5 linked regions of the Homo sapiens genome follow. The protein of the gene in region 1 purifies or fractionates together with the protein of each later gene. This does not show direct contact. Each region holds a gene or a part of one and is shown on either strand. Other genes may lie near its edges.

Region 1 (6,535 bases):
AACATGTATATGAAAAGATGTTCAGACCCAGAGCAAGTTAAAATAGAAATATAGTGTCATTTTACATCTATTACACTGGTAAAAGTTAATAACTGTATAATGCTAATTGTTGACATAGATATGAGGACACAGGATTGGTGGTGCAACTATACATTGGTGTAGTCACTCTGAAGAGCAATCTGATACTCCTCAGGCAAATTAAACATACACATACTTCATGACACAGCAATTCCACTCTAGATGTGTATCCCAGAAACACTTCTAGGTTCATAAGGGGACACATACAATGATGTTCATGGCAGTGTTATCTGTAGTGGTAGGGAGTTCAAGGCTACATAGGTTAGGTGTTCAAAACTGAATAAATCAGTAAAATGTGAGGAATGCACATGAGTATTATGCAGTAGTTAGAAGCAATGGACTAAATGTTCACATAGCAACAATAAGATATAGATCTTAAATGCCTTTTAGATATATCTTAAAACATATGAACAGGAAAGAATGCATAATTTGCAAAAACTTATAAAAACAAAAAATATATAATAAACACATTACAACAATTGCCAAGGAGAGGAGGAGAATGGGAGTGGAGAAAGGGGCTAAGTGAGGATAATCACCTTCTGTAAATTATAATTTACTTATGTTAATTGTCTATCTTTACTATTCTGTAGGCTTCATGAGGGTAGGAGCCTTCACCGTTTACTCTAACATCCCAATCACCAAGAAGAGTGCCTAACACATGATAGGTACTCAAATTTTGTTGAACTAATATATAAAGAGAAGGGCCCTTTACAGACTAGTTGTGATGATATCTGAAACATAAAGAAACAAAAAAAACAAGAATATGTGACATGAAGACTAAGAATATGGGAATATGATTAATCTAACTGGAATAGGGGTTACAGATTATGAAAAGCTGATTTTGAAACATTAATGATTTCACCTGGCACTAATATCTCGGAAGCACAATACTCAGTCGTAATTTAGAAATATGATGTCAACTTCATGGTGCCACATTACGGGGTAGGTCTTGGAGATACTGCCTCCACCTTCAGGGTCCATTAACAAGAAGCACACAATTACAGATTCAAGATATGTATAAGTAGCTTTGAAAAAAAGCATTTTTTAATAGCAGCGTAGCAAATTATATTTTTCTGTGTCAGACTCAAGTAGATCATCAGGATATTAAAATTTCAGACAACTGACTTGATCTAACACAACAACTTGTCCTGCTGGTAAAAGTGAAATAAAAAGTAATCAACTTTCCAGCCATATTCATATATAAAAATGATGTCATAATTATGTATTCTATATTAGAAACATATACATCTCTGCAACTTCTAAATTATTTCCTAGAAATTAACAGGACAGAATAAATGTCATCTTCCCTTATAGATTAATAATTTTTAAAATTATAATACAATTCATGTTGATAACCTAACCCATTTTTCCTTCCTCTACATATTTCAATACAACTGTGGTTTTACTGTTACATAGTATTTCCACTTCAGCAAACTGTCTTTTACATAGTTTCCATAGTAGCAGGTTTTGTGGGTATAACAATTTTCAAATATTTTCAGATACATTTTTATTTTCTACAAGTCTTGTTTCATTGCAGCTTCCTGCTCATTATTAATGACATTTATTCTTCCAGGGGAGTGTGAATAATACTTAAAACAAAAGGATCATTAACAAGCTGAGTTTTAAGGTTGAACATTTTTATTAAGAAAACTGTCTTTAGAGCACTTTGTTGAGAAAAGGCATTCCAACCTCTCTTTAAATAACAGCCTCAAGCTTGGAGGTCTAAAAATAAAATTTTGACTACAGTATTATAGCATAGGTAGTGAAAGCACAGTATTTGATGTGAGAGAAATGCCCACCCAACATAAAGCAGAAAGGGAAGGCTCTCCTTGCACTCCTGGGAGAAAAGAACAAGAAAGAGGAGTTTAAAAGAAAAAAAAAAGAGAGAGACAGACAGTAAACTGGACCTTGTTACTCAAAAGTGTGGGCCACGAACTAGCAGCACCTGGGAGCTAGTTAAAAACGAAAAATATCAGGCCCCACCCCAGGTCTACTAACTCAGAGTCGGTAAATTAACAGGATTCCCAAATGATTCATATGCACATTAAAGCGTGAGAGTCACTGAACTAAAGTAAAAGTAGAAGACTGGGGAGAGACACTTCCTTCATTATAACAGAAGGACAAGGTGAGGTTTGTATGTGGGTTAGTTTGATGGGTCGGTTTGAAAATGATCATGAATCAGTCTCATGGTTTCTGTCTTTAAAAGTTTTTATTCTTTCAGCAACAGTGACTTTATAAATTCTATTCATTCATTCCAAAAAAGCTAATGAGTGCCTACAATGTGCATTGTTTGACTTTTTTCAGTCCTCTACATTAGGGTCTCTTTTTGGCATGATAGTTTACTCATTTCCTTAATTTCAGAAATCTTCACTTTTACAAGATTTGTCCAAATCAAATCAACTGAATTACTGTAAAAGGCAGTAATCTTCTTCCTATGGATACACTATAAACAAAGTGCAATTTCTTTTAAAATGACAAATCATACTGGGACTAAAATGTCTTAGTCACAAAATGTAAAAACATAGTAAGATATACCAATGAATCTGGAACAAGAATATCCTTCCTGCAGACTGCTTGAAAGCATCAAGTATAAATTCAGCGCATATTAAACACATGCGATGTGCTAGGCCATCTGCTAAGCATTTCAGACAAAAATATGCATGAAATAGTCCCTATAATACAGTATGGTATATAGGGCTGACTTTATGGGACTGAAACCTATGTAGTCACACAGGCCTTGCATTTGGTTTAAATGTTCCTTTGTTGTTCTGAATAAATTTACCTTTGAAACTTTAAGTGAATGAAATACAAGTACGTAAACTCTTAAATGAAGCCTGATAGGAGAACGGACCAGGCCTATCTCCTGGTACGTGACCAGGGGATATGGACAAGTAAGGAAAACAGTTTTATATTTTACTACCTTTATTTTCATGGCCCTTTCCTGCTTTTTTGAACAAGGTACTCTGCATTTTTATCTTCTACAAGGTTGGGCTGATTCTGTAGCCAATGACGACAGTCAAATACAACTATGTGCTAGATACTGTGGTAGAAAGGACAATGGAGCCATTGGCCATGAAAAGGTCAATGATGACTTCACAGGGAAAATGATACTTAAGTTGGGCTTTGAAGGACAAAAAGGAGTTTGCCAGATGACTGGCACTCCAGAAAAGAACAACATTCTTACATAAATATGTAGACTTACAAGTGTACATTTATTTCCTCCAAGTTAAAAAAAAAAGCGCTTCATTGAAGTTTTGTATATTTTCAATACACTGTTTTTTACAATTTTTTAAAGAGCTGTGTACTAGGCACAAATTCCACTTCCTGGGGAAGCTCACCTTCTGGCAGAGCAAATGCAGGAATAAGAAATATACAGAGGTGAACAAACATGCCTTCGGTTTCGATTTTTACCTGGGTTTGTGCCTCTTCCCCGGGCCGGGGAAGCGGTTTGCGGGCTTTCGAACTGGTATGGGCTGTAGGCTTCGACCTTCTCCGAGGCCTGTGCAATCAACCGTGAGAAAGGGGTTTCCTCCTCGAAACGGAACTGGCTCCAGTTGGCATGGCCGCAGAGTTTTTCTATTTCTTTCACCAAGTACCTGCCGCACAGCTTCCTGGCACTGCTGATGTCGCTCAGTTCACGAGAAAACCGAACCAGCAGGAGTCCAAGCCACAGCAGGGACAAGCGGAGGAGCCGCGGCATCCCTGTGACCCCAGGCTAGTCCTCCGCGTTGTGCAATGGCGGTCGGCCGGACCCTGCTCCCTGTCTGCGCCTGCGCCAGGCCGAGCGGCGCGCACAAACACTGCGGAATTCCGAGCGCGTGGGGGCGTCGCCAGAACTTCAAGGGAAGGCGCGCGCCGGCTGCGTCAAGGCTTTCCCGCCAGCTCAGGGGTCTCAGGTGGTCGAAGGTAGCAGGCCCTGGCTCCTAAAATGAAAGCCAAAAATCCCCTCACTACCCCGCCACCCCCTAGTTTGATTCATTTTTCTTTCCTTCCTCAATGGGAGATTCCTCACCAAGCGTGAGAACATAGGATCCCTGTTACCTGATAACGTAGGTTAAAAAGTGTTGCTCCCTCCACCTGGAATGCGTTTCTCGTTCTTGTTTGCCAGGTTGTTAATAAAGCTTCGTCTCCCTCACAGAAACCCCCTGTCATCTCTTTCACGGTGTTAATCGACCTGTTTCCATTTGTGGGCGTGTAACCTCTTTCCTGAGACCCCCGCTTCATGAAGGCAAGGGCCTGCGTCTGTTCTTGCTTTCCATCGTACCCCGGGATCTGGCATTTAGCTGGCAATCAAATATGTGGTGAAACGTTTAAGTGTTGCATATGGCCATGTGCGTTTAGTCAGGTTCAAAGCTTCTTCAGAAAAATCCTACTGGTTCACAGGGAGGCATGGGCCTTAGCCTCAATCTCCAGAAAAAAGAAGTAGGGACGCTGTCTTGAGGTACCTGGGATGGAAATCTGGTTCTTTCGGTTAGATAATGTAGAGGATTGTGTATTACCAAATTAACTTGTGACAGGGACCCCTAGAGGATTTGCCTTGTAAGAATAACAGCATGCAGCATGAAATGCTCATTTAGGTGAGATAATTTTGCTCAGTTAGGAGGGAAGGGGCAGGGAAGCGAAGCGCAATCGGCATAGGTAGCTTTATCATTTTAAATGAAGTTCTGTGTTACTAGTGTGTTGGCGTGGAAGGATGTACTATCGGCCACAAGAGGGCATTCGGTGGCTGTCTCAGGAATAAGGTTCAGGATGCTGAAGCCACAGGTGCAAGCTTATCAGTGATCTCACCATTTCCCTATACAATTTTATTTTTTTCTCCCTTTCTTTTCTGTCTTCTGACTCTATGTCTTTTTCTTAATTTTCCGTTTCCCTATCTTTTCCCTGCTTCCCAGTGGCATCCATGAATGCTGTTAAATTAACTGCCAATTGGATTTTTTAAATGGTTGATATAATATAGATTAGTAAAATTTAATCACCTTCCTTAAAAAATAACTTATGTCCAAACTATAGTGGGCCATGAGTCCTAGTCAGAACTTTATCAGGTAAGGTTTTTGAGAACGGAAAATATTAATCATACTGAGATGAATGTAAGCCTTGTGGTAACCACAAGGCAAAACCTATAGTAGATATATAAAAGATAAAAAAGAAGAAATCAAGCATACCACTACAGGATATCATCTAATCACAAAGAGAACAAGAGAAAAAGAAAAGAACAAAGGATCTACAAAATAACCACTAAACAATTAACAAAATGCAGTAGTAAATTCTAACCCATCAATAACTACTTTGAATGTAAATGGATTATGTTCTTTGATCAAAAAACAGGGCTGAATGGATAAAAAAAAAAAGACTCAACTATATACTGCCCACAAGAGACTCATCAAAAGACTTGAACTATACTTTGGAACAAGTGGAGCTAACAGATATTTATGGGACATTCCATCCAACAGCAACAGAATACGCATTCTTCTAAAATGCACAGAGAACATTCACCAGAATAGATCATATGTTATGCTACAAAGCAAGTCCTAATAAATTTAGAAGAATAAAATAATATCAAATATCTTTTCTGGCCACAATGGAATGAAAGTAGAAATCAATAAAAGGAGGAACTTTTGAAAACTCACAAATATGTGGAAATTAAAGAACATGTTCCTAACTACCAGTGGGTCAAAGAAGAAATATAAAGGGAGTTTAAAAAATATCTTGAGACAGGCTGGGCTCAGTGGCTCATGCCTGTAATCCCAGCACTTTGGGAGGCTGAGGTGAGTGGATCACTTGAGGCCAAGAGCTCAAGACCAGCCTGGCCAACATGGTGAAACCCTGTCTCTACTAAAAATACGAAAAATTAGTCAGGTGTGGTGGCAGGCACCTGTAATCCCTGCTGCTCAGGAGGCTGAGGCAGGAGAATGGCTTGAACCTGGGAAGCGGAGGTTGCAGTGAGCTGAGAGGGCATCACTGCACTCCAGCCTGTGTGACAGAGTGAGACTCCATCTCAAAAACTCCAAAATGGAAACACAACATACCAAAATTTATGGTATGCAGCAAACACAGTGCTGAGAGAGAAGTTTATAGTAATAAGCACCTATGTCAAAAAAGATCTCAAATAAACAACTTAACATTGTATTTCAAGGAACTAGAAGAACAAAGTAAGCCCAAGCTTAGCAGAAAGAAGAAAATAACGAAAGTCCAACAAAAAAATTTTAAAAATAGAGGCTAGCAAAACAATAGAAAAGTTTAACAAAACTAAAGTTGGTTCTTTCAAAAGATGACCAGGATTAGGGACCCACTTAAATAAGCAATCTAGCTGCCCCTTGGCAGGGTGGATGTGCTGCACTGGTGGGAATCCCCCTTGTCTGGGCTGCCCTTACTCTTCAGAGCCAGCAGGCAGAAAAGACTAAGATGGCTGATCCACAATACCACAGCCACTTCTCCTCCCAGGGGCTCCTCTCAGGGA
Region 2 (5,793 bases), on another chromosome or scaffold:
TCAGAAGTCACATCCTATACTCTGAAGTATTCTTCACACTTAACCAAGAAAAATTTTTAGCTGGACTAGGTCACAAAATCCCCCAAACTAAGAAAATCATTAGAAGTCCTGAGATTGGTGAGATAAAACAGACATTAATTTACTACTGATTTCTTGGTGAATGCAACACATTTTCCATCAGTATTAGTCCACACAGAACCCATGAGCAAATCAGGAAAAAGCAGCTCCTTTGGGCAGCTACACCTCAGTGAGCACATGGCTATGAGTGGAACTGCAGCTGAATTCCAACATCCTCTTACTGACTCAAGTAGGCAAACTCATGCAGGGTGTAATCTGAACAACTAGACATGGAGATCCTATTTATACAGATCTCTCTCTTTAGTGCTTTACAAATAGTAAGACAAAAGTGATATAACTAGAACTTTTATCTATAGCCATGACATAGTAGGATTGTGTCATAGTGAGATTGTAAAATTGTCTACAGCAAATACCAGGTTAAATTTAGGTGATCATGAAATATTACTTGATGAAGACTTCTTGTAATAATGTCATCAGAGAGCAACCAAGAAAAGCGTCTCTCCTTGCGGTCACTACCAGGAGAGGGGAATACTTACCACCATCTTCAACTGCAAAATAGAACATATCACTTGTGGCATTAGCCCCTTCTCTTAAGACATAGCATATTTTCATGTCATCAATGTCAGCTAGAAAATAACCAAAAAACAAGATGATTAATTACCAGAGTAAAATTGATGATTCATTATGGTAAATTTTATTGGCTATTAGTTTTCCTATAAACATGTTTAAATTCCTTTTTCCTCCTAACAGAAACAGTGCTGTCTTATTTCTCAGATCTCTAAGCCCCTAGATTTCAGCTGTCCCATGGACACCTGATCCCTCACACAGATAAATACAGTGCAAGAGTTAGTTTATAATAATAGCAAGGTGTTTCCCCTCCCAGTGGTATTTGCATGTTCATGCACCAAAGGAATGACTGTCTAAATATGGAATGTCAGGCACCATGACAGGTGGAAAGGAAGATATTTTGAGGCATGGCAGATTTCCTGGCACTCTTGAAATCACATCCTTTGCCTCCCAGTAGGGAACTGGCCCGCAGAGGACAGAGCTTTGCTCCCCAACACTGGCTAACTTTTCTTACTTTTTGTGCTGTAGCAGGCTATTTTTTAAGCTCTCCAAAGTTTGAGAGAAAAAAATAAGATGATATTTTCAAAAAATCACACACATTGAAATAACTGATGACTCCCTGTTGAGAACAAAAAACATCTAATAAAAGTGGAAACGGGCTGGACACGGTGGCTCATGCGTATAATCCCAGCACTTTGGGAGGCTGAGGCAGGTGGATTATGTGAGGTCAGGAGTTCAAGACCAGCCTGGCCAACATGGTGAAACCCTGTCTCTATTAAAAATTGGCTGGGTGTGGTGGTGCGTTCCTGTAATCCCAGCTATTCGGGAGGCTGAGGCAGGAGAATTGCTTGAGCCTGGGAGGCAAAGGTTGCAGTGAGCTGAGGTCGCACCACTGCACTCTAGCCTGGGCAAGAGAATGAGACCCTGTCTCAAAAAAAAAAAAAAAGTGGAAACCTTTATTCATGGCAGAAAGTTATATTGCCTCAGAAATGTTCCTTATGTTGTTTCCTACTTTATCAAATTCACATGCATACATTTGTTTTCATTATGAAGACACAATTTTTAAAACTTATTCATCCATCTTACCAGTTCCTTTCCTTAATGATGCCACACATACAACATAATAAGAAAAAAATCGTTTTGTTCTGTGATACTCATAATAGATCATTAATTGATCTGGGCCAATCAGTGAGTTTCTAAGACTACATAAAGTCAAGATCATGGCTAAAAATAGCTATGACAATGATAGGTAATATTTATCTGTCTAGTGTGTGTTCTATGGTTTTTTCATCTCCTAAAAGCTCTAGTAAGTTCATGCTATGGAATTCAAAGGCTTATAAAGAAGACAATGGCTTTATGAAATGTTAATCTCAAGTGAGGCAAGGCATTAGGATGGACCAATGATGCCACAAATTTCTATAGCTCCACTTTACAGATGTAAAATGTGTGGTCTACCCTGGCTCATAAAGTTTTGAAAGGTGACTCATTATTAGGAACACTTGCAGAATGGAAAATCTGATTTTATAGTTAATGGTACCCTCCTGCTAATAGAGGTATTTGGAGGTAAAACATGCCTAAGTCGCTTGATTCTCCCTTAGCACTTCATTTGTTTTTTAAAACAAAATATAGATATGTGGGTCTCACTATGTCGCCCAGGCTGGCCTCAAGCAATCCTCCCACATCAGCCTCCCAAAGTGCTATGATTATAGGTGTAAGCCACCTAGCCAGGCCCCATATTTCTAACTCTACTATAACTTTCCACACTTGCTGCCTAGTTTCACTTTTATCTTTCTGTATGGTTATCTTTCCCAGTAGATGAAAAACTTCTGGGATTTTTTTTTCCTATCTTAACTTCCCACAGCTCTTTGCTTAGGATATTACAGTAGCAAAGGCGCAAATGTTTCTCAATTTAAAATGAAAAGGCTGAGTAGGTAGATCACACTTGTATCTCTACCTTTGCATGTATGATGTTTCTGCCAGGGTAAGAACTGAAGCCCCTACACAACTCTTTGCCTGTTTACTGTTATAATTCTTAATTGTATAACCTTCACTTTATCAGTAAAAAAATGCAGTAAACTCTGCTGACTACACATCTTTACCACAAGAACCATGACCTCTGGCCATGTGGAGAAGACCCTCTTCCAATGTTCCCACCCCTTCAAATTGCATAAGAAAATCTAAAGGCTCTACTAGGAGAAAAGGCACTGTTTAGCATGCCCAGCATCTGTATCAATGTTTTCTTAAGCGAAATTGTAATCGTTAAGGGATAGTTTCATTGAAATAAATCCTCACTTCAAAACAGAATTTTAAGAACTTTTCTTTTTTCAGATAAAGAAAACATAAATGCAACTATATGGCACTCTGGTACCCAATTTTCCCTCCAAGTTAGGGCATGTGTTATTGATTAGTTGGAACATACTAAAACCTTTTATATTTTTCATATAATTAATTAATAATTCATGGTTCAAAAAAGAGCCTCTAAAAAAAGTAAGTAAAGACTTTCATCATCATACTGGTATTCTAAAGGCACCTCTACAAATAACATAAACACACGTTACATATTTATGTATATATAAATGTAATAACGTCTAGCTTTCTTAAGACACAAAAGTAGTAGAAATATAATCTAATAGCCAAAATGTAATCTTTTTAAAGCAAATATCTAAGAATTATCTAGATTTTCTTCTAGTTGTTAAATATACATTAAATTTATTTCAGTTTATCTACAAAATTATTCCATGAGATTTTTTTGTTTGTTTGTTTTTAATTCTAAGTTCATTAACATATCAGGCAGCCACATCTGGTTCAAACTCTTTGAAGACATTTCTGCTTTCCTGAAACTGGCTTATAAATTATCCCACAGAATATATCATTACGTACTTATTGTAGGGAAGAAAAATCCAGGTACTTGAGACATGCAATTTAGATCTGGGTTAAGGGGAACAGGGGCAACTTGGCAAAGAGGTGAAGTTTGAAATAAATAAATGATATCCATAATTTACCTAATTATACATTGTTAACTTTTCATCAATTTAATAAGTTTTAGAAAGGAATTAATTTTTTTCTTCTAGGAACCATTTAGTCAATCAATTTAGGAATAACCTTCTCTAGCTACCTGTGCTAAACTGACCTAATTCAATGCATTGAAAATCCATCAAAATATAGGTTTACCTTATCCCTTCATGATAAAGCAAAAACAAAAAGAAATAAAAGGACTGCATAGTCTTCACTCTTAAGCACTGCTTTCATTTCTCCTAGTGGAAAAAGAGCCATGGTAGCTTTCTGATGGCGCTTTCTCCGTTTTTTAAATCACTTATCTAATCTCCATAAATAACAGCTACGGATCAAAGTCTAGCCTTGACTTGTTTGAATGAGTGCCATGTGATTGAATACCAACAGCTTCCCTAGTCAATATTTTGGTTTATATTGGAATGTGATAATTTTCCTTAAAAATTCTTAAAAAGTCACATCACATAATAAGCATAACTTCTCTACATTTACAAAGATGACAAAAATTAATCATGGTGACTCAAAGTCAGTAAGAGAAAGAACAACTGCCTATAATGAAATAGCATAATTTTTAGAGTTCAAAATTTCAGAAATAATATTCTAATATTGTGAGCTGTTGGACTTAGTCCACAGAATTTAAATTAAATCATTTGCCTGTCTTCATCAAAATAGTCCTTTTAAAAATCTCTAAATCAGATTTCTTTTTCAGGTCAGAGGAGTAATTTGAAGAACCATTTTCTATTATCTAATATATTCCTTTCATTCTCTTCCCTCTCCATGAAAATAAACCAGTGTAAGACGGCATGGCATCGCTAGCCTCAGAAAGCCTTCACATAAAAGTTTCCTACTGGTCTGGCATGACACTTGGCACTTTGAGGTTTTCCTGTCCCTGCAGGCCCTGGGAGACATTCAGGCTTTTAGCCAAGAATCAGGAGGTTGGAGTGTGGAGCTATTTGCCAGCACCTCAAACAGAGAAGTAGTCCACTTTAACAGTGCATTTTGCTACTTCCATGTTTATTAAAGCATTTGTTATCTAAGAGTACAACACAGTTGCAGGAAAAGAACACCCCCACTGGGATGCCCTGGGGTTAAGCTCCATCTCTACCCATGGATCCCACATAGGAAAGATCTAGTGTCCATTCTGACATGGTGAGATTTTCATGAAAGCAACCCAAATCCCACTGTAATGAAAGTTGCATGTTCTGCAGAACGGAGCCCTGACTCCCAAGCCAGTATAGTGAATGGGCTTCTCCCTTCCCTCACTAAATAACTCTGCATAGGACACTTGTCCTTTCTGCCTCAGATTGTGTCCACCCACAAAGGAAATTCAGGTTAGAAAAATCCTGTTGCCTAAAGACCGCAGGTGCCTGAAGCAACTGTTTTTTGTCACTGTGTTTGCAACAGGTCAGAGAGGAGGTTCACAATGATGAAATAATTTCCCCCTTCTAATATTAAGCTTGTCTACTTATCTTCATGCTCTTAATAATGAATTAGATGTATATTTTGGTGATGAACATATTGTTATTTTACACATCTTTAAGTATACTTTCCTTTTTCATGTATATCCTAGTAGCATGCCCTGTAAATATCATTGTTATAACTCTAGATAGGTGTTTATCAATTACGTCTCTGGATGAGTATTTGCCTGTCATGAAATATTATTAACAATTTTAAAAATCAACAAAGTAAATAAATGTAAACAAATCTTTTAGTTACAAAGTTCCTAACAACTATAACCGTGTCAGAGCAATGCTCTTAAAATTTATTCAAAGTAACCTAAGTTTGAAGGCTTTTTTGGAATGGTAATTGATAATGACAGCAATGTGAATAAACAGTATTTAGAAAGCACATCCTTCATTAAGGTGCCAAAATGCTTCATGAACCACCTGCAGCATACAACACAGAGGATGCGTTGGATAGGTATGGCAAATGGAGCAGAATTGGAAAGCCTGCTTCGATTTTAATTCACCAAAGTTCACCTCCTGCTTCGGCAGCCTATCCTTGCCACTTTCAAAATACATCAGTACTCCCTCTAATGAAGGCCACTGAGATGGGAGGTAGGACAAGAAGGGAGCTGTCCTCCTAGGAAAGTGAGTCCCTATATTCTCCCCATCCCCTTTGTTTCCTTTCCTTCTCTTG
Region 3 (5,793 bases), on another chromosome or scaffold:
CATTTGTAATCCCAGCTACTCGGGAGGCTGAGGCAGGAGAATCGCTTGAACCTGGGAGGTGGAGGTTGCAGTGAGCCGGGATCACACCACTTACTGCACTCCAGCCTGGGCAACAGAGTGAGACTTTGTCTCAAAAATAAATAATAAATCATGGCTTGGTTTTCATATTTATTTTGAGATAAAATTTAAAATAATAAATATGAGGTGGAACTAAAAAAACAAGTTAGTACAGGTTACTACTTGTAAGCATAGGTGAGACTCAGATTCCAGGTTTGGAAATTCTAGCATGACAGGAAGAGTGCTCAACTGAGTCTTTTTTATTTTATTTTTTGTAGAGATGGGAGCAGGGGCAGGGGTTCCCCATGTTGCCAAGGCTGGTCTCCAGCTCAAGTGATCCGCCCTTTGCTTTGGCCTCCCAAAGTGCTGCAATTACAGGCATGAGCCATCGCACCCAGACAAGTCTTTTTTTTTTTTTCTGAGACGGAGTCTCACTCTGTCACCCAGGCTGGAGTGCAGTGGCGCGATCAAGCTCCGCCTCCCGGGTTCATGCCATTCTCCTGCTTCAGCCTAGTAGCTGGGACTACAAACGCCCGCCACAACGCCCAGCTAATTTTTTTTGTATTTTTAGTAGAGATGGGGTTTTACCATGTTAGCCAAGATGGACCTCATGATCCGCCCACCTCGGCCTCCCAAAATATTGGGATTACAGGCGTGAGCCACCGTGCCTGGCCTTTTTTTTTTTCTTAAAGGACTTTTCCATAGGCCACACAGGTCAGGGAGGCATACGAGGCAGAACAGGTGGGACGGGCATGGCATGCTCTAAATGAGTGTGGTGTGGCGCATAGCAGGCACGAGGACCCTGGGTGGTCTGCGCTGAAGCTATAAACTAAAGGTATGGCAGATGTGAGAGAGGAGGAGTCTAGAGTTCATCCTGGACACGAGGGGTCAGAGAAGTTTCTAGTTGGGGAGAGGCATCTGTGTAACAGACAGCCCCACATGGGTGCAGGGACTGGCAGCCTGATGTAACCTACCACATCCAGACATGTGTCAGGCCAGGCAGCACAACCCCAGCTGCCTGGGCACTCACCCCGCTGGTGCAGCCGAGCAAAGGGCTGGAAGTGCCGAGCATAGCTGAGGGCCTCCAGCTGCTTCGCGGGGCCTCCTGCCAAGAGGCGGATGAAGTGCAGTCGGTGCAGCTTGAACTCCAGGGAGCTGTTGAGTTCCAGCAGGCGCTGCCTGTGGGAGACGGCCCATCTGGGAAGAAAGGGGCCAGTTTAGTGTAGAGCTGGTGGGGGCTAGGACCTGAGAGCCAGCACCTGAGAGGAGGGCCCCAAAAGCCTGTGTGAGGCTCTTGAGACAGGGCTGCAGGCAAGTCAAGTACATCTGGGTGAAATGAAGACCACAGTCAAGCCCTGTGCCCTGAGAGGTCGAAGCAGAATGCTGCTGGCCCACCCAAGGGCCTCCTTACTCCAACGCAGGACCCAGGTCTTGTTCGTGCAGGGCTTCCAGGATTCGATTCAACTCTAGGAAAGGCTGCTTGAAATCCAAGTCCACATTCAGCGTTGATTCCTACAAGGAGAGAGAGAAGAGATCCCACCACTGGAAGATGGTGTTTCCAAAGTTCTCTGCTATGCACATAATAAAAGCTCACCCGCCAAAGACAGGCCAGAGAGCTGGGCTTTGCTTGAGGAGCTTGGTCTCCTGCCAGCCACTTGGGCCTCTCTTGTTCCCATCTCAGTCCTGGGGAGGCTGAGTATGACATGCTGACCTCGAGTGCAGACTGCAGACCCCACCCCACAACCGTAGCAGTGGAGACAGTCCCCAGGCTACGCACTGAGTTGCATGGCGAGAAAATTACTCCTCTTCAATCCTCCTAGTACAGTAGGGAAAATCTTTTACTTTTACCACCAGTGTGTCTTTAACACCTAACAAGTACTACTTTGTCATTTCACTCAGCTCCCTTTTCAATAAAGGGATATGAGGCCTCAGCTCAGAGCCCTGGCTGGCAACCAACTCTAACTAAAAATGAGTAACTTCTCTTTTCATCATATATGTTTTTAAAGCTACCTTCTGCTTCTGGCAGAGGTGCTGATTTCCTTTAGGAAATAAATGGATTTGAGAATGGTAGGGACTTCATACAGTGAAAACTAGCAGGTGAAAGGCAGAGCAGGCAGGTTGTTGCGCCCGCCCAGCCCGACTGTACCTGGCACAGCTCCTCGGCCACGCTGAGCATGCCCTGCTGATACAGGTGTTCCACGATGGCCATCTGCAGGATCTGCTGCTGCTGTTCCCGCGCGTCCCACACCGCATCTGACACAACACCACAGATCTCAGAGTCGAAGTTCTGACGAAGGAGGAGAGACAGGGCCTGGTGATGCGGGCACTCTTGCTGGCTCTCCTTCGAGTCCTTGTACATCCCAGCTTCAGGGTGCTCCCACCCCACGCCTGGAGCCGGCCACGTGCTCACCCTGTCAATGGCTTTGCCCACTCGGGATACACTGCTGTGAATGTCCTTATGGTCCGAAGCCAGTTTCTGCACCGTATCTTTGATCTTCCGGCAGCACTGTGACATCACCAGAGAGAGGGTGGCTGAGAGAGGGGTCCCCTGGAGGGCTGCAGAGAAAGTGGAATAAGGACACAGAGGAGGCAGACTGGGGCACCTGCCTTGGCAGCAGACCTTAGCTCTATTCTAAATGCCAGCCCCGTAGCCCAGGAGGCAGCCCTGAATGCCAGGGTGAAAGAACTAGCTTCTCTTCCAGGTCCTGCCACTTTTTAACTGTCTGACTTGGAACTGCTCAAATGGGAAAAGCCAGTTCACCTCTGGGAGCCTTCATTTCCTCATCTGTGAAATTACTGGTTGCTGTGAAATGAAGATGATCTGGCACTTACTATGGGTCAAGTGTTTATTTCAACTCATGGACTACAGCATGCATAGGATTCTGTTTAACTGCCAGGTTAGACCTAGAGTTACCACCTGATCCAGCAGTTCCACTCCGAAGGATATACCAGAAGAAATAAAAACATATGTCCACACAAAAACTTGTAAGTGAATATTTATAGCAGCAATATTTATAATAGCCAGAAGGTGGAAACAACCCAAATGTCCATCAGCTAGTGGAAAAACATGGCACATCCCTACAGTGGACTATTATTCAGCCATAGAAAGGAATGAAGTGCTGATACAGGCTACAGCATAGATGAGCCTTGAAAACATTCTATTAATCAAAGAAGCCGGACACAAAAGGCTACATGTGGTATGATTCCTTGTATATGAACTGTCCAAAATAGGCAAATCTATAGAGACAAAAAAGAGATTAGTGGTTGCCAGAGGCTAGGGAGAGGGAGGAAATGGAGAGACAGTCAATGGGTTAGGTTTCTTTTGGGGGTGATGAAAATGTTCTGAAATTAGATAGTGGTGAAGATTGTACAACTCTGTAAATATGCTGAAAACCGCTGAGTTGGACTTTATTTTTTAAATTTTCATCTATGTATGTATGTATTTATTTATTTTGAGACCGAGTTATGAGACTGGCTAATACCTGTATTTTTGGTAGACAGGGTTACCATATTACCCAGACTGGTCTCAAACTCCCGGACTCAAGCAATCTACCCGCCTCAAGTTCCCAAAGTGCTGGGATTACAGACATAAGCCACCATGCCCATCCAGAGTTGTACTTTATTTATTTATTTTGATACAGAGTCTTGCTCTGTCACCCAGGCTGGAGTGCAGTGACTTAATCTTGGCTCACTGCAACCTCTGCCTCCTGGGTTCAAGCGATTCTCCTGCCTCAGCCTCTTGAGTAGCTGGGATTACAGGTACATGACACCACGCCCAGCTAATTTTTGTATTTTTTAGTACAGACAGGGTTTCACCATGTTGGCCAGGCTGGTCTCGAACTCCTGACCTTAGGTGATCCACCTGCCTCAGCCTCCCAAAGTGCTGGGATTACAGGCATGAGCCACTGCACCTGGACAGAGTACTTTAAAAGAGTGAGTTTAATGGTAAGTGAATTATAGCTCAATTTTTAAAAAAGACATAGGAACCAGGGACTCCCTCTGGTCAGACCTAAGACAATTTGAACATTAAATAACTGCAATGGATTATAACCTATTGAATAAAATAAGAATATGAGTGTGAAGTGATAATAATGAAAGGAGAAGGGAAAGCTTCTTTTCAGTTGAATGTCAACTAATAAATGTATAAAGAATGACAAAGCAGGAAAAATCACCATGTTGCAGACAGCTTAGTAATAATTCACACAACAATCATTAATGGATACTAAAACTAGTAGGCTGAAATTTGGTAAAGAGCAGGACATTTATATGGTATCAAAGTATCTCCCCACAAACTACTTTTTTTTTTTTTTTGAGACAGTCTCGCTTTGTCACCCATGCTGGAATGCAGTGGCGCGATCTTGGCTCGCTGCAACCTCCACCTCCTGGGTTCAAGCGATTCTCATGCCTCAGCCTCCCAAGTAGCTGGGACTACAGGCATGTGCCACCATGCCCGGCTAATTTTTGTATTTTTAGTAGAGATGTGGTTTTGCCATGTTGACCAGCCTGGTCTCAACCTCCTGGGCTCGAGTGATCCGCCCGCCTCAGCCTCCCAAAGTGCTAGGATTACAGCCCACAAACTACTTAGTGATTACAAAGAAAAATTAGGAAGTTTACAGTGGAAAACCTTAGCAGCGACCATCTTAACTAAGTGATCAAAGTGAAGATCAGGCCAGGTGCAGCGGATCATAATCCCAGCACTTTGGGAGGCTGACACGGGAGGATCACTTGAACCCAGGAGTTCGACACCGTCTTGGACAGCATAGGGAGACCCTGTCTCTACAATAAAAAAAAAAAAAAATTAGCAGGGCCTGGTAGTGTACTGCTGTGGTCCCAGCTACTTCTGAGGCTGAGGTGGTAGGATCACTTGAGCCCAGGAGGTCAAGCCTGCAGTGAGCCAAGATCGTGCCACTGCACTGCAGCCTGGGCAACAAAGTGAGAACTTGTCTCCAAAATAAAAGTGAACAACAGCAATAATGCAATAAAGCAACATCTTGTGTCTTCCAGTGTGATGCACTGAGAAACAAATCACTTCTGAAGTACTGCCAAAAATGCAAAACCTAAGTAATGAGAAAACATCAGACAACTCCAAATTGAGAGACGTTCTGCAAAATAATTGGCCTTAATGCTTCAAAAATACCAATGTCATGGAAGATAAAGGAAGACAGAAGAAATGTCTCAGATTAAAAAAAGTAAAGATTAGACAGGAGAAACTAAATGCAGTGTGTGATCTTGGATTGGTTCTTGGACTGGAAATTAAAATGCTTTATGAAAATTCCTGAACAGCCGGGCATGGTGGCTCACACCTGTAATCCCAGCACTTTGGGAGGCTGAGGCAGGTGGATCACCTGAGATCGGGAGTTCGAGACCAGCCTGGCCAACATGGCAAAACCCTGTCTCTACTAAAAATCCAAAAAAAAAAAAAAAAAAATTAGCCAGGCATGGTGGTACGGGCCTGTAAACCCAGCAACTTGCGAGGCTGAAGCAGGAGAATCTCTTGAACCTGGGAGGCGGAGGTTGCAGTGAACCGAGATTGCGCCATTGCACTCCAGCCTGGGCAATGAGAGCAAAACTCTATATCAAAAAAAAAAAAAAATTCCTGGGACAATGGCAAAATTGAAATGTTGACTACACTGGCTGGGTATGGTGGCTCACACCTATAATCCTAGCACTTTGGGAGACCGAGGCAGGCAGATCACTTGAGGTCAGGAGTTCGAGACCAGCCTAGCCAACATGTCA
Region 4 (6,272 bases), on another chromosome or scaffold:
GACCAGTCTGGGCAACATAGTGAGACCCCGTCTCTACAAAAAATACCAAAACAAGTAGTGGGGCTTAGTGGCTCACGCCTGTGGTCCTAGCTACTTGGGAGGCACTTGGGAGGACTGCTTGAGCCCAAGAGGCTGAGGCTGCAGTGAACTGTGATTGAACCACTGCACTCCTGCCTGGGCAACAGAGAGAGACCCTGTCACCAAAAAAAAAAATAAATAAAAAAAATAAAAATTATTTTCATTGAATAAAAGACTTTCTAAATGTGAGAACGTTATGTTTGTAAAGGCTAAGTTGTTTCCTTTTAAGCCTGGGGGAGGACAGGAGTAGAAATAACCAAGCAAGGCACACTTCTCATTAGGTATATTAACGTTGATGTTTGAGTTGACATTTGTTGAATTTTTTTTTTCAGAATGGTGCTTCAATTCATGTTTCAAAAGCAGACACAGAAATAATTTCCAGAGAAATGAGCTGGGGGAAAACAGAAATGTGTATGGAATTGGAACAAAATAAACCTGATTTTTTTCAACATTGTATAGAATTGTTCTGAGGTTAAAAAGAAAGGTTTCTAAAAAATAAATATCTAACAAAAGCTGCACAAAGATTAGGCATACATTATCCATGGAGACATTAAAAACTATTAAAAAGGTTTTTTTACCCCACCTCATCCCCTGGTATGTTTGAGGAAAGCATCTGGAAATTCTAACTCAAAATCATCTAAGGGAATCAATGTAAAACAGACACCATTCCATCCCCTTTCATCCTTCTTAATACACCTCAGCCTCTCCCTTGACTAGATAAAAACGTAATTTTCCCTCTCCCAAATACAGTGCAAAACAAAAACTCTTCTGTGAATGGAGAGACATGGATATGGGGTAGAGGTGGAGACTTGCCTACATTACCAGCAGCCAGCCGAAAATGCCCTGTGTGTGTAAAATATGTTCCTTCAAAGGGGCATTGTGAGCACTAAATATAATTTGTGCCAAAAATAATAATGAAAGCTTAGTGAATACTCTACAGTGCAGGCATCGTTACATTTAATCCACAAAACTACCCCATGAGGTAGATATTTACCGTTCTTTTCACTTAACATCTTTTTTAAAAAGCGGAAAACAGAATGATGAATTAACTTGTCCATGGTCATAAAACTGATAGGTAGTGGCACCAGGATTTGGGGACCATCGGGCAGAGGATCTTCCAAAACCGGCTTTTAAAGAGCCACAAAAAGATGTAGCCGGGTTCTTGGCACTACAGTACTGCTTTATAAACAACAGTTCCCTTCTTTTCTCTTAGAGCCCAGTGGGAATCTAGAGGGACACCTTACATAAAGGAAAATGACTGCAACCTGGACCTGTCACTCGACAAATACTGCCTCTCCCCACCTCACTTCACCTGACGTCTCTGCCCAACCGAAGGCAGCTCTCAGAAAACCGCACAGAGGTTACCACCCCAGAAATTCTGAGATCCTAGGAGGTAGCAATGCAAATAGACAAAGCACAGTATTGCTTTGGATCGAAAATATTTGTTTGCTCATCCTAACTCCAATTCCCCTAGCCTAGAACAAACATAGCCCTTCCGCACTCAGGAAATCCCAAGAGGTCAGGTTCAGTCTGGTAAACAACACTGTCCGGGCACCTTGCAGAACACTGGGGACTGTGACGGGCGGCGACAAATTGGCACAAGAGAGACTGAAATGCACAGGGACACCAGCCTAGTGGCCGTGAAAACTCAAGTTGACACTTCCAGGGAGGGAATGGGGGAGGTGGAGCCCAATTCCTGCTTCTGGAGAGAGTAAGAGACTTCCTCCATCCTCCTTCTCCCTCCTCCTCCTCCAAGGCACGCTGAGATTTGGAGCGGAGGAGCTGAGCCCCGCGGGAAAAGCAGAAAAGGGTCATTGCCACTTTAAATGACTCAGGAAGTAAAAGGAGGCCTCCTGACGGGGAAAGGGAAAGTGGAACCGGGGCGGCGCGGGGGCCGGCGGCTGCCGCGATCTCTCCCTGGTAGCGGGAGGCTGAGCGGGCGGCGCGACGCGGGGGCCGACGGGGGCGCCGGGTGGCCGCGCCGGAAGTGCCTTGCGCGGCAGAGGAAGCGCAGGGACAGAGCGGAGCAGGCCGAGCCGGCGGAAAGGGTCTTTGCTGCTGCGCCCGGGCAGGGGCTGCCGCGGCCCCAGGTCCCGCTTCGAGACGCGGCGCGGTCCAGGCGGGAGGCGACTCCCTAGGAAGGGACCCGGGGCGGGAGGAGGAAGTGAGGCCGCGCGGAAGGAAGGCGGCGAGCCCCGGGGCCCCGAGGCCTTGGCCGCGTCACAGCACCCACATGGCCTCTGGAGTGGGCGCGGCCTTCGAGGAACTGCCTCACGACGGCACGTGTGACGAGTGCGAGCCCGACGAGGCTCCGGGGGCCGAGGAAGTGTGCCGAGAATGCGGCTTCTGCTACTGCCGCCGCCATGCCGAGGCGCACAGGCAGAAGTTCCTCAGTCACCATCTGGCCGAATACGTCCACGGCTCCCAGGCCTGGACCCCGCCAGCTGACGGAGAGGGGGCGGGGAAGGAAGAAGCGGAGGTCAAGGTGGAGCAGGAGAGGGAGATAGAAAGCGAGGCAGGGGAAGAGAGTGAGTCGGAGGAAGAGAGCGAGTCAGAGGAAGAGAGCGAGACAGAGGAAGAGAGTGAGGATGAGAGCGATGAGGAGAGTGAAGAAGACAGCGAGGAAGAAATGGAGGATGAGCAAGAAAGCGAGGCCGAAGAAGACAACCAAGAAGAAGGGGAATCCGAGGCGGAGGGAGAAACTGAGGCAGAAAGTGAATTTGACCCAGAAATAGAAATGGAAGCAGAGAGAGTGGCCAAGAGGAAGTGTCCGGACCATGGGCTTGATTTGAGTACCTATTGCCAGGAAGATAGGCAGCTCATCTGTGTCCTGTGTCCAGTCATTGGGGCTCACCAGGGCCACCAACTCTCCACCCTAGACGAAGCCTTTGAAGAATTAAGAGTAAGTATTGGGCCTTCAGAGCATAAACCTAGGGGTCAGGACACCTGGGTTTCAACTCAGGTGGCCTGGCTGTGACCACATTCGCTTTCACTGTGTCCCTAAGAAGCTAGTCTTTCCAACTTTTTGGGAGCAGTTCTTATTCACCGTTTTTGGTTGAACTCTTTTGAGAATCTGATGAAAGTTCTGGACTCTGACCTGAGAAAATACACACAAAATCTAGTATACAATTTCTAGAAAATTGCAAGTTTCTGGTCTGTGGATCCCAGGTAAAGCATTTCTTGGGAGTTTTGACCCCACTTAGGCCAATTTCCACAGCATCACTATTGTTGAAACTGGTGCTTTGTGCTAGGGCTCTTGATAAGGCAATCTTTTTGCCTACTTGAAAACATGGGAAATAGGATTTTGCCACATGAATCCAAGCAAGTGATACGTCTGCATTGAAAAGACTAACAAAATAGTTTTAATAGTAACTTCATATGTGCCCCGAGTTCATTTTAGATTCTTCGTGTTTGAAACTTAGTAGAAAAGGAGGGTAAGAAGATGGAGGCCAAATTGGGGTGGGAGTGGAAGTTCCCATGTCCTCTGTCTGGATCTTTGTCTGTCGTGGACCTTACTGGTCCCCCAGAACAGTGGACACTTCGGAAATATTTGTTGAATGAATGAATTTGCAGACGATGCACCTTTTATTCATATTGTGGATGTTTACTATCATTGAGAGAAACTGCTGGTGTTAATCGGGGAGGGAGGGGGAAATTTTGAGTGGAGTGATCAGTTCATTAAGTAATCTGTATTAGTGAACATTGTCATATTATGATGACTTTTGCTTCCCTGAATAGGGAATAGCTGGCATTGGGATAACAAATACCTTGAGAGTGAAGATCCTCTGTATTAGGTTTTCCCTTTTTTAGTGCCTATTTATAATTGTAAAATGCACATTCAGAAAGTGTGTAAAAACTTACAGTCTAACAAATAATTATAAAACAAGTACTGAGGTAGTCTCCATCCAGATTAAGAAATAGAACATTACTAGCAATATTGAAGCCTTTTCCCCATACCTTTTCCAATTATAACCATCTCTCTTCTGCATAAGTAAGCATAATCTTGACTTCTGTGATCATTTCCTTGCTTACCTTTATGCTTTTACTCCATGTGTATGCATTCCTAAACTTATTTGAACTTGACACTATGGGTGTCATATTTTTATCATGCATTCTTCTGGGTTTTGCTTCATTTTCTCAACATTGTGTTTGTGAGAGTCATCCTATGAGTGACTGTAGTTTATTCACTTTCATTACTATTTCGAATTCCATTTTATGAATATGCCACAAGTTATCTATTCTGTCATAGATGGTCATTTGATTTGTTCCCAGGTTTGGGAGCGTCGGGCTGTTACAAACAATGTCAGTGTAAATATTCTTGGTCATGTCTCGGTGTACATTTAACATACATTTAAGTGGAATATAAACGCAGGAGTGAAATTGCTGTGTCAGAGGCTATGCATATCTTCAGTAATACTACATGTTGCCAACTATTTTCCAGAGTGGTTGTACCAGTTTGAATCACTATGAAGAGTATATGAGAGTTCCTGTTGCTCTGTATCTTCAAAACTTGCTATTACTGTATTTTTCATTTTTGTCAATCTTGTGGCTATGTAATGGTATTTTATTGTGGTTTTAATTTTCATTCCTCTGATTACTAATGACTTTGAGGATCTTTTATACTTCCTCTGTGAAGTACCTAGTCAGTTCTTTTGCCCATTTTTCTATTGAGTTGTCTTTTCTCATTATATGAGTTTTTATATATCTGTTTTTTTTTTTTTTTTTTTTTTTTTTGAGATAGAGTCTTGCTCTGTTGCCCAGGCTGGAGTACAGTGGCTAGATCTCAGCTCACTGGAACCTGCGCCTCCCAGGTTCAAACGATTCTCCTGCCTCAGCCATCTGAGTAGCTGGGATTACAGGCACATGCCACAATGCCTAGCTAATTTTTGTATTTTTTTTTTAGTAGAGATGTTTTTGCCATGTTGACCAGGCTGGTCTTGAACTCCTGACCTCAGGTGATCTGCCTGCCAAAGTGTTGGGATTATAGGTGTTAGCCACTGTGCCCAGCTATATATTTGTTTCTGATTTTTTTTGTTGTTCTTTCTATGTGGGTTGCAAATATCTTCTATGTGGTTTTTCTTTTTAAAGAAGTTGTGCCTTGAATAGAAGCTCTTCATTTTAATGTGGTAAAACTTATCAATACTTTTCCTTATGGTTAGTGCTTTTTGTGTCTTGTTCTACTTAGTATTGATTTTTGTGTAGTAGAAGTAGGGGCGCAATTTCATTTTTTCTCCATACAGATGGCCAATTGCTATTGCTGTATTTATTGAAAAGCCCTTCCTTTGTGCACTGATTTGCTGTCCCACTGTCATATATCAAGTGCCCATAATATGTGTGAATGTGTTTCTTGGTTCTTCTGTTCTCTACTGTTTATCTGTTAGTATATCCCTGTGTGAACAGCATGTTTTCTCAGTTATCCCTTTATAATATGTCTTAATATCTGGTAAAGCAGGTCCTTCCATCTTGTCCTACAAGAGTGTGTTGGCCAGTTTTGGCACTTTACATTTCTTAGAATCATAGTATTAAAAAGCCTGCAGGAGTGTATTTGGATATTAAATTTATAAGCCAATATAGGGAGAATTAATATCATTACAACATGAAGTCTTCTGATTCATTAATTTAGGTCTTTTTTATTGCTTCGCAGTTAAGTTTTATATTTTTTTCCTCAAAGATTTTTCACATCATTGTAAAATTTATTCCTAGATACTTCATAATTTTATAATATTGTAGAAAATATGAGCCAGGCACAGTGGCTCACACCTGTCAGCTATATGGAAGGCTGAGGTGGGAGGATTGCTTCAGTCTAGGAGTTTGAGGCTGCAGTGAGTTATGATCCTGCCATTTCCCTCCAGCCTGGTCGACACGGCAAGACCCTATCTCTAAAATAAAAATAAATGGTTTTAAGTTTTGTTTTCTAATTGAATATAGGAATATGATTAACTTTTATATATTGTTTTTTTGTGATCTATCTGCTGAATTATCTTACATATCCTAATAATTTATCTGTAGATTTATTCTACATACCTGATTGTATTATGTGTGAAGAGAGATACTTTTTGTTTGTTTCTTTTCAATCCTTATATCTGTTATTTGTTTTTTCTTGCCTTACTGCATTGGATAGCACCCCGAGTATTATGTTGAATGGATGTGGTTGGTGGGTATTCTGGCCTTGTTCCTAGTCTAGCAGTAATTGA
Region 5 (5,793 bases), on another chromosome or scaffold:
GTCAAAACTTTGTTTCATGCACAAAATGATTTAAACTATTGTATAAAATTACCTTCAGGCTATATGTGTAAGGTATATAGGAAACAGGGATGAATTTCATGTTTACATTTGGATCCCATCCCCAAGATATCTCATTATACATATTTAAACTTTCCAAAATCTGAAATCTGAAACACTTCTGGTCCCAAGCATTTCAGATAAGGGATAATCAACCTGTATAGAGCTGGGGAAAGAGGCACAGAGAGATATTATGTCTTTGTAACTGACTGGCTGAAGAGAGGCTCAATAAATTAGGTTGGTTCATGGTCCATGATTAGGACCTCACAGGCAGACCCCCCAGGCATTCCAGGCTATTTCTGGGGCAGGCACCAGAATTCTGTGTTCCTGTGGATTCTACATACAACTCTGGCCTGGGGAGGCCCAACTGGACCCTCATGAGTTGAGAAAGCACATGGGCTGGACCTTCCCCCAGCTGCAGGCCTTATTCTAGTCCTACTGAAGTGTGTGTACACAGCACTGCCTTTTGAGAGCTGCCTGGACTGTGGTTGCCAGGTTCATGGTGCCCACTTGGGCCATGTGGCACTGGGTCTGTAGCTAGTGCTGGACGTTTCCCCTCCCTACACTCATTCCATCATCAGGCCCTGATGACACTGGAGTCTTTGAGGGTTGCTGTCATTTACCCAGCACATGCAATATTTGAACTCAAGAAAGCCCTGTGCTACTAACAATGGCCCCCAGCCAAACTTATTTAATTATTTTCCATTAATTAATCAAGACTTCACAAGGTAAACAGGGAAGTTTCGTCAGGGAAAATTGTATAGTGAATAAAGGACATCAGAGACCTGTTCCTAGGAATTAGGACAAGAATGATAAGTACGTACTAAGCAAAGGCCTAATAGTTGTTTCATGCACACCTTCATTATACAACATTAGAGTGGAACACCTGTGACACATGGCAAGCAGGAGAGGAGAGTTGTTAGCTACATCTTCCCCTTCTATCTAGAAATTTGGATAGATGTTTCTTCCAGAATCCCTTGCACCATCTGGGGAGCCATCTTGAAAGTAACATGGGGAAGCTGATCCTTTCCCAGGGCAGCAGCATGAGGGAGCCTAGGGAAAGGATTTGGGAGGAAGGGGGAAAATGTTATTGAAATTTGTTAGGAGAGCAGCCATATGCAACTTGGAATTTGATCAGTCTTGATTTGACACCCTCCTCCTGCAGCTAGTGCCTGGGTGTCTTGAATGGTCCCAGATGGCTGAGGTCTCAGTTTAGCATCTTGCCATAGAGAACAGTGTGTGAGCTTACTGCACTCCTCACTTTGTGCTTGTGGGATGCCAGCTGGGTCATGAGGGCAGCCTGAGCTGGATGATCTGAGGACCTGTGCACACATCTGCAGTGGGGCCCACAGGGCAGAGGAGCGGGAACTTTGCATGATGACCCCTGTCTGTAGCTTATTGCTTTGAGGCCTTTGCCTGAGTTCTCACTGATGTGATCAGTTACGGGCACCAAAGTGAAAGTTAAGCACTGAGAACAGGACAAGGAGGCTGGAATCAAGCAACAAGATTTGGAATCCTATAATTCCAAAGTGAGCTCAGAGGGTCATCTGCATTGCTGCTGTTCCTGAGCAGCTCATTAGAAACATATTCTGGGACCTGCTACAGAGATTCTGATTCACAGCGTGCAACTTTAAACTCTTGTTACATGTTCATCAGGGCTTGAGAACATGATGTGCAGGTTGGTCTGAACCCAAAGGTATAGTCAAAAGTGTCTACAGGGCAGTGTCAGAGATGGGGCCACACAGCATGCTTAGGGACCCCAGAGGCCTCAGTTCAGGTTGCCTCCTCTGCCCAGGCACTTTTCCTCTCTCATTGTGGGCACAGGTACCTTCTCTGCATGTCCCAGGGATTAGAGCATTTGTTGCCAAGGCCCTCTGAGGTCAGGGCAGGGTTGGAATGTATCAAGAACAAGATGAATCAGAGGCAGGTCAGCTGAGTGGAGTAATGATGGAACAGGGGTTCTGCAAAACATCCCTGAACGATCTTGTCATGCCCTTTCTAGAACTTTGATAATGGTGATTCTCGCCTGGACTCCAGTGAATTCCTGAAGTTTGTGGAACAGAATGAAACTGCCATCAATATTACAACGTATCCAGACCAGGAGAACAACAAGTTGCTTAGGTGAGAGGAACCGAGAGGTCAGAGAATGATCCACAAGGGAAGACTAACTGAGAGAGGGGACTTAAACCCTTTCCCACCTGCAAAAGAGCCACCAGTGAGAGAATGTCACGTAAAAAGCAAAATGGGAATTCTGTCCTGTTCTATTCTATGAAAGTATGAATTAATATATTGAGTACCACTGATATCTAATCAAATAGTTATTGTTTTTGGTCAGAACTTGCAAGGACTAGAAGAATATAATTTTAAAATAAATTGCCAAGGGCACGTCAGAGCAAGTTATTTCTGAATGTTGTGGGTGATGTTTTACTGATTAATTTTCTGAAGGAATTACAGTAATGTATTATTTAACTATAGGTCTAAAATAGCTTTGTTCTGATTTTTAGATAATTAGTGCTATTTCATGTCAATTGCCCTAACTGTTACAGATATATGCCCGTCTACTTTTATGGCATTATTCCAGAATCAATATTAATAAAAACTAATCGCTAAGAAACTTTTGATGTGGTTTCAGCACATCGGTAAGAATTAAAAATAGGAAAAGCATGTCTTTTTTTCAAAAGAAGTGCATTGCACAGTTTCTAGAAGGATTCTTCTTTAATAATAGTCTATGACCTTAAAGTATAGGTTCTGTAAATCCTTCATATTTTGATAATCTGAAATTATATGTTTTATAATTTCAACGTTTGAGCCTCATGATATCCCAGTGAAGGAGGGCTTCTTGTCCTCCTTTTACGGATGGGAAGACAGGCTCAGAAAAGTTGAATAACTAACTCAAGTCCATTTGAGTAGTAAGTGATTGAGCCAGGGCTCAAATACAGCCCAAGAAAGAAGTGATGGAGCTGAGTTTTTTTTTGTTTGTTTTGTTTTTTGTTTTTTTTTGTTTTTGTTTTTGTTTTGTTTTGTTTTTGTTTTTTTTTTTTTTTTTTTTTTTTGAGACGGAGTCTCGCTCTGTCGCCCAGGCTGGAGTGCAGTGGCGGGATCTCGGCTCACTGCAAGCTGATGGAGCTGAGTTCTAAAAGCTTTTCTGAAAATCTCTTTCTAGAAGGATGATAATGGTGATTCTTGCTTGAACTTCATATTCTTTCAAATCCTATATTCCTTTCATGTCATCTGTCATATCTCTTCTGTTTTGATTTTCCTAGTTTGGTTGACTTGACGTGTATATACCATGGGGAAAAGCAATTGCTAGTGGAAGGTATGCAGGCAGTGAAAACATTAGACAAAACCATTCACGAAACTTTAGTCATCTTAAGGGGGGGAACATTTGGACAGCCTGGGTGATCTGACATTCATATAACAAACTAAAGGTTAGATGCCTGCATTGGTCAGGATGGATAATAGTTGTGTTGGGTCAGTGTAGAGAGAGGCTGTTTTAGTTAGCAGTCATCTTCTTGGCCTCCTGTGGAGGCCCTGGGTGTATGTGGTCCTGATGCTTACTTCCTTTCTTCTGAGCGAAGCTGAGGTCTTGCTAACACATTTCTCCTGTGTTTTGTTTCAGGGGACTCTGTGTTGATGCTCTCATTGAACTGTCTGATGAAAATGCTGATTGGAAACTCAGCTTCCAAGAGTTTCTCAAGTGCCTCAACCCATCTTTCAACCCTCCTGAGAAGAGTATGCCTAACCTAAGAAATAGAGAGCTGTAGTGAATGGAGGCATTTTGTAGGAGCCAAGATAGAGAGGATTGGTGGAACTCTCCAGAGCTAGCTGAGAAAATCCCCTTCCATGATTCTAAACTGGGCCCCAGCCCATTCTCCCCATGGTGAAGTTAGGGCCCCACATTCTTTAGGTTGATGGTAGTGTTTGCTCAGATATAGTGCTTCTGAGGGACAGGCAGGTCTTGTCTGGGAAAAAAGGGTAAGGTGCACAGACTGTAGCAAAGATGCCCTGTTCCACCCTCACAGCTAAACTGTTGCCCCGTATTTCTGGCCCAACAGAGTGTGCCCTGGAGGATGAAACGTATGCAGATGGAGCTGAGACCGAGGTGGACTGTAACCGCTGTGTCTGTGCCTGTGGAAATTGGGTCTGTACAGCCATGACCTGTGACGGTGAGCTGTGCTTCAAGCAGAAAGAAAAAACAGCAAGGAGAGAGCTTCATGAAATCAGCATGAGAGAAGTTGGGGTGGGGATGATGGAGAAGAGGGCGGTGGCTGGGAGCAAGGAACCCAGGCAGACCCACACCTGTAAGGTTGGAGCCCCAAGTGGGGAGCTTTGAGGGCAGAACATTTATCCCATAGGCATTCAGTTTGAAAATCACTCCAGAGGCTTGGAATAAGAGAGGACCAAGACCCTGGGCAAAAGTAAATGATAATGGAATAGTAACATTATGGAAATAGTAACAGTGAAAGTAGTAATAATGGAATAATAATTAAAAATAGTAATTATTTAATAATTAAAACATTAAAATAAAAACAATAATTATTATTTAATAATAATCAAAAATAATAATGGAATAGTAACAGTGAAAGCAAATACTCAGCAAAAACCATGTGCCAGGCTCTCTTCTAAGCACTTTACATATTAACCCATTGATCCTTATAACACCTTAGGAAATGGTAAAAGACTAGTGGTTGGAAGACAAAATGACTTCTCCTTGCCATACCCAGCAGAAAAAGAAAATATGTTTGTAGACCCTCTTTCAACTAACAGAGATGGGTAATCTTTTTTAAAAAGAGAAAGTTGAGCTAGTTGAGATATGTGCAGGGTGGTCTGGGGAGACAGAGAAATCTGAGAGTTTGTGGGGCAGTGTGAGGCTACAGGGTATGTTGGAACCACTGGAGTCCCATCTGGGTCCTGGGCTACAATGATGCCAAAGATCAAGAGGGACTCTTAAAGCCGAGCCCTAGCAAAGAACCAGGGATATTCAGAGTGGAGGCAAGACAGAGAAGGGTGTTGAAGCCAGGTCTGCAACGGAGAATTGCCTTAAGGTCATTTGGAACCAGGCCGAAAAGTTTCACCAGCTAGGGTGAACCTAAAGTTATATCAGCCAGGCGCAGTGGCTTATGCCTATAATCCCAACACTTGGGGAGGCCAAAGTGGGAAGCCCAGGAGTTCAAGACCAGCCTTGCCAACATAGCGAGACCATGTCCCTACAAAAATGTGAAAATTAGGCAGGCGTGATGGCACGTGCCTGTAGTCCCAGCTACTTGGGAGGCTGAAGTGGGAGGATCACCTGAGCCTGGGAGGTTGAGGCTGCCATGAGCCATAGTCACGCCACTGCATTCTAGCCTGGACAACAGAGCAAGACCTTGTCTTAAAAAAAAAAAAAAAGTTTATTTTAAGAAGTTAACTGTGTCAAGGAAGAGCTGGCTGGAACCTAAGATAATGTTCAGGAAGATCAGGTTAAATGGTAACTAGGAGACAGAGGTCAGAAACCCAGGATGAGGCTCTTCTAGACAAGGATCCTAGAGAACAGCAACAGTATAAATGGCCCAGTACTATCTAAGGTATCACTGGTCTACCGCTGCCCAGGACCAAGTCTGTTTTCAGTGTGGAACGACAGCAAACCAATGTAACTACAGGGACAGGTGAAGGAACAGGAAGAGGCTGTTTAGAGACTAGAAATTCCTACAAGTTCCTAGAAGTCAAGACCAAGCCAGGATCTCCAGACCAAACACA

Evidence for each region.
Region 2: the proteins of INSL6 (region 1) and FREM2 purify together in Homo sapiens (affinity purification with mass spectrometry; one large-scale study listed by BioGRID and IntAct). This does not show direct contact.
Region 3: the proteins of INSL6 (region 1) and RMND5B purify together in Homo sapiens (affinity purification with mass spectrometry; one large-scale study listed by BioGRID and IntAct). This does not show direct contact.
Region 4: the proteins of INSL6 (region 1) and TRIM44 purify together in Homo sapiens (co-immunoprecipitation; one large-scale study listed by IntAct). This does not show direct contact.
Region 5: the proteins of INSL6 (region 1) and FSTL1 purify together in Homo sapiens (affinity purification with mass spectrometry; one large-scale study listed by BioGRID and IntAct). This does not show direct contact.

The regions. Positions count from the first base shown.
Region 1 is NC_000009.12:5,181,825-5,188,359, forward strand, and holds the start of INSL6 (insulin-like peptide INSL6 precursor), read right to left. Parts: upstream 3,816-6,535; 5' UTR 3,779-3,815; coding exon 3,490-3,778; intron 1-3,489. UniProt on the Homo sapiens protein: May have a role in sperm development and fertilization.
Region 2 is NC_000013.11:38,692,609-38,698,401, reverse strand, and holds part of FREM2 (FRAS1-related extracellular matrix protein 2 precursor), read right to left. Parts: intron 705-5,793; coding exon 615-704; intron 1-614. UniProt on the Homo sapiens protein: Extracellular matrix protein required for maintenance of the integrity of the skin epithelium and for maintenance of renal epithelia. Required for epidermal adhesion. Involved in the development of eyelids and the anterior segment of the eyeballs.
Region 3 is NC_000005.10:178,139,403-178,145,195, reverse strand, and holds part of RMND5B (E3 ubiquitin-protein transferase RMND5B), read right to left. Parts: intron 2,614-5,793; coding exon 2,468-2,613; intron 2,345-2,467; coding exon 2,204-2,344; intron 1,570-2,203; coding exon 1,469-1,569; intron 1,255-1,468; coding exon 1,088-1,254; intron 1-1,087. UniProt on the Homo sapiens protein: Core component of the CTLH E3 ubiquitin-protein ligase complex that selectively accepts ubiquitin from UBE2H and mediates ubiquitination and subsequent proteasomal degradation of the transcription factor HBP1.
Region 4 is NC_000011.10:35,660,801-35,667,072, forward strand, and holds the start of TRIM44 (tripartite motif-containing protein 44), read left to right. Parts: upstream 1-1,974; 5' UTR 1,975-2,311; coding exon 2,312-2,980; intron 2,981-6,272. UniProt on the Homo sapiens protein: May play a role in the process of differentiation and maturation of neuronal cells. May regulate the activity of TRIM17. Is a negative regulator of PAX6 expression.
Region 5 is NC_000003.12:120,401,238-120,407,030, reverse strand, and holds part of FSTL1 (follistatin-related protein 1 precursor), read left to right. Parts: intron 1-2,059; coding exon 2,060-2,178; intron 2,179-3,676; coding exon 3,677-3,789; intron 3,790-4,112; coding exon 4,113-4,223; intron 4,224-5,793.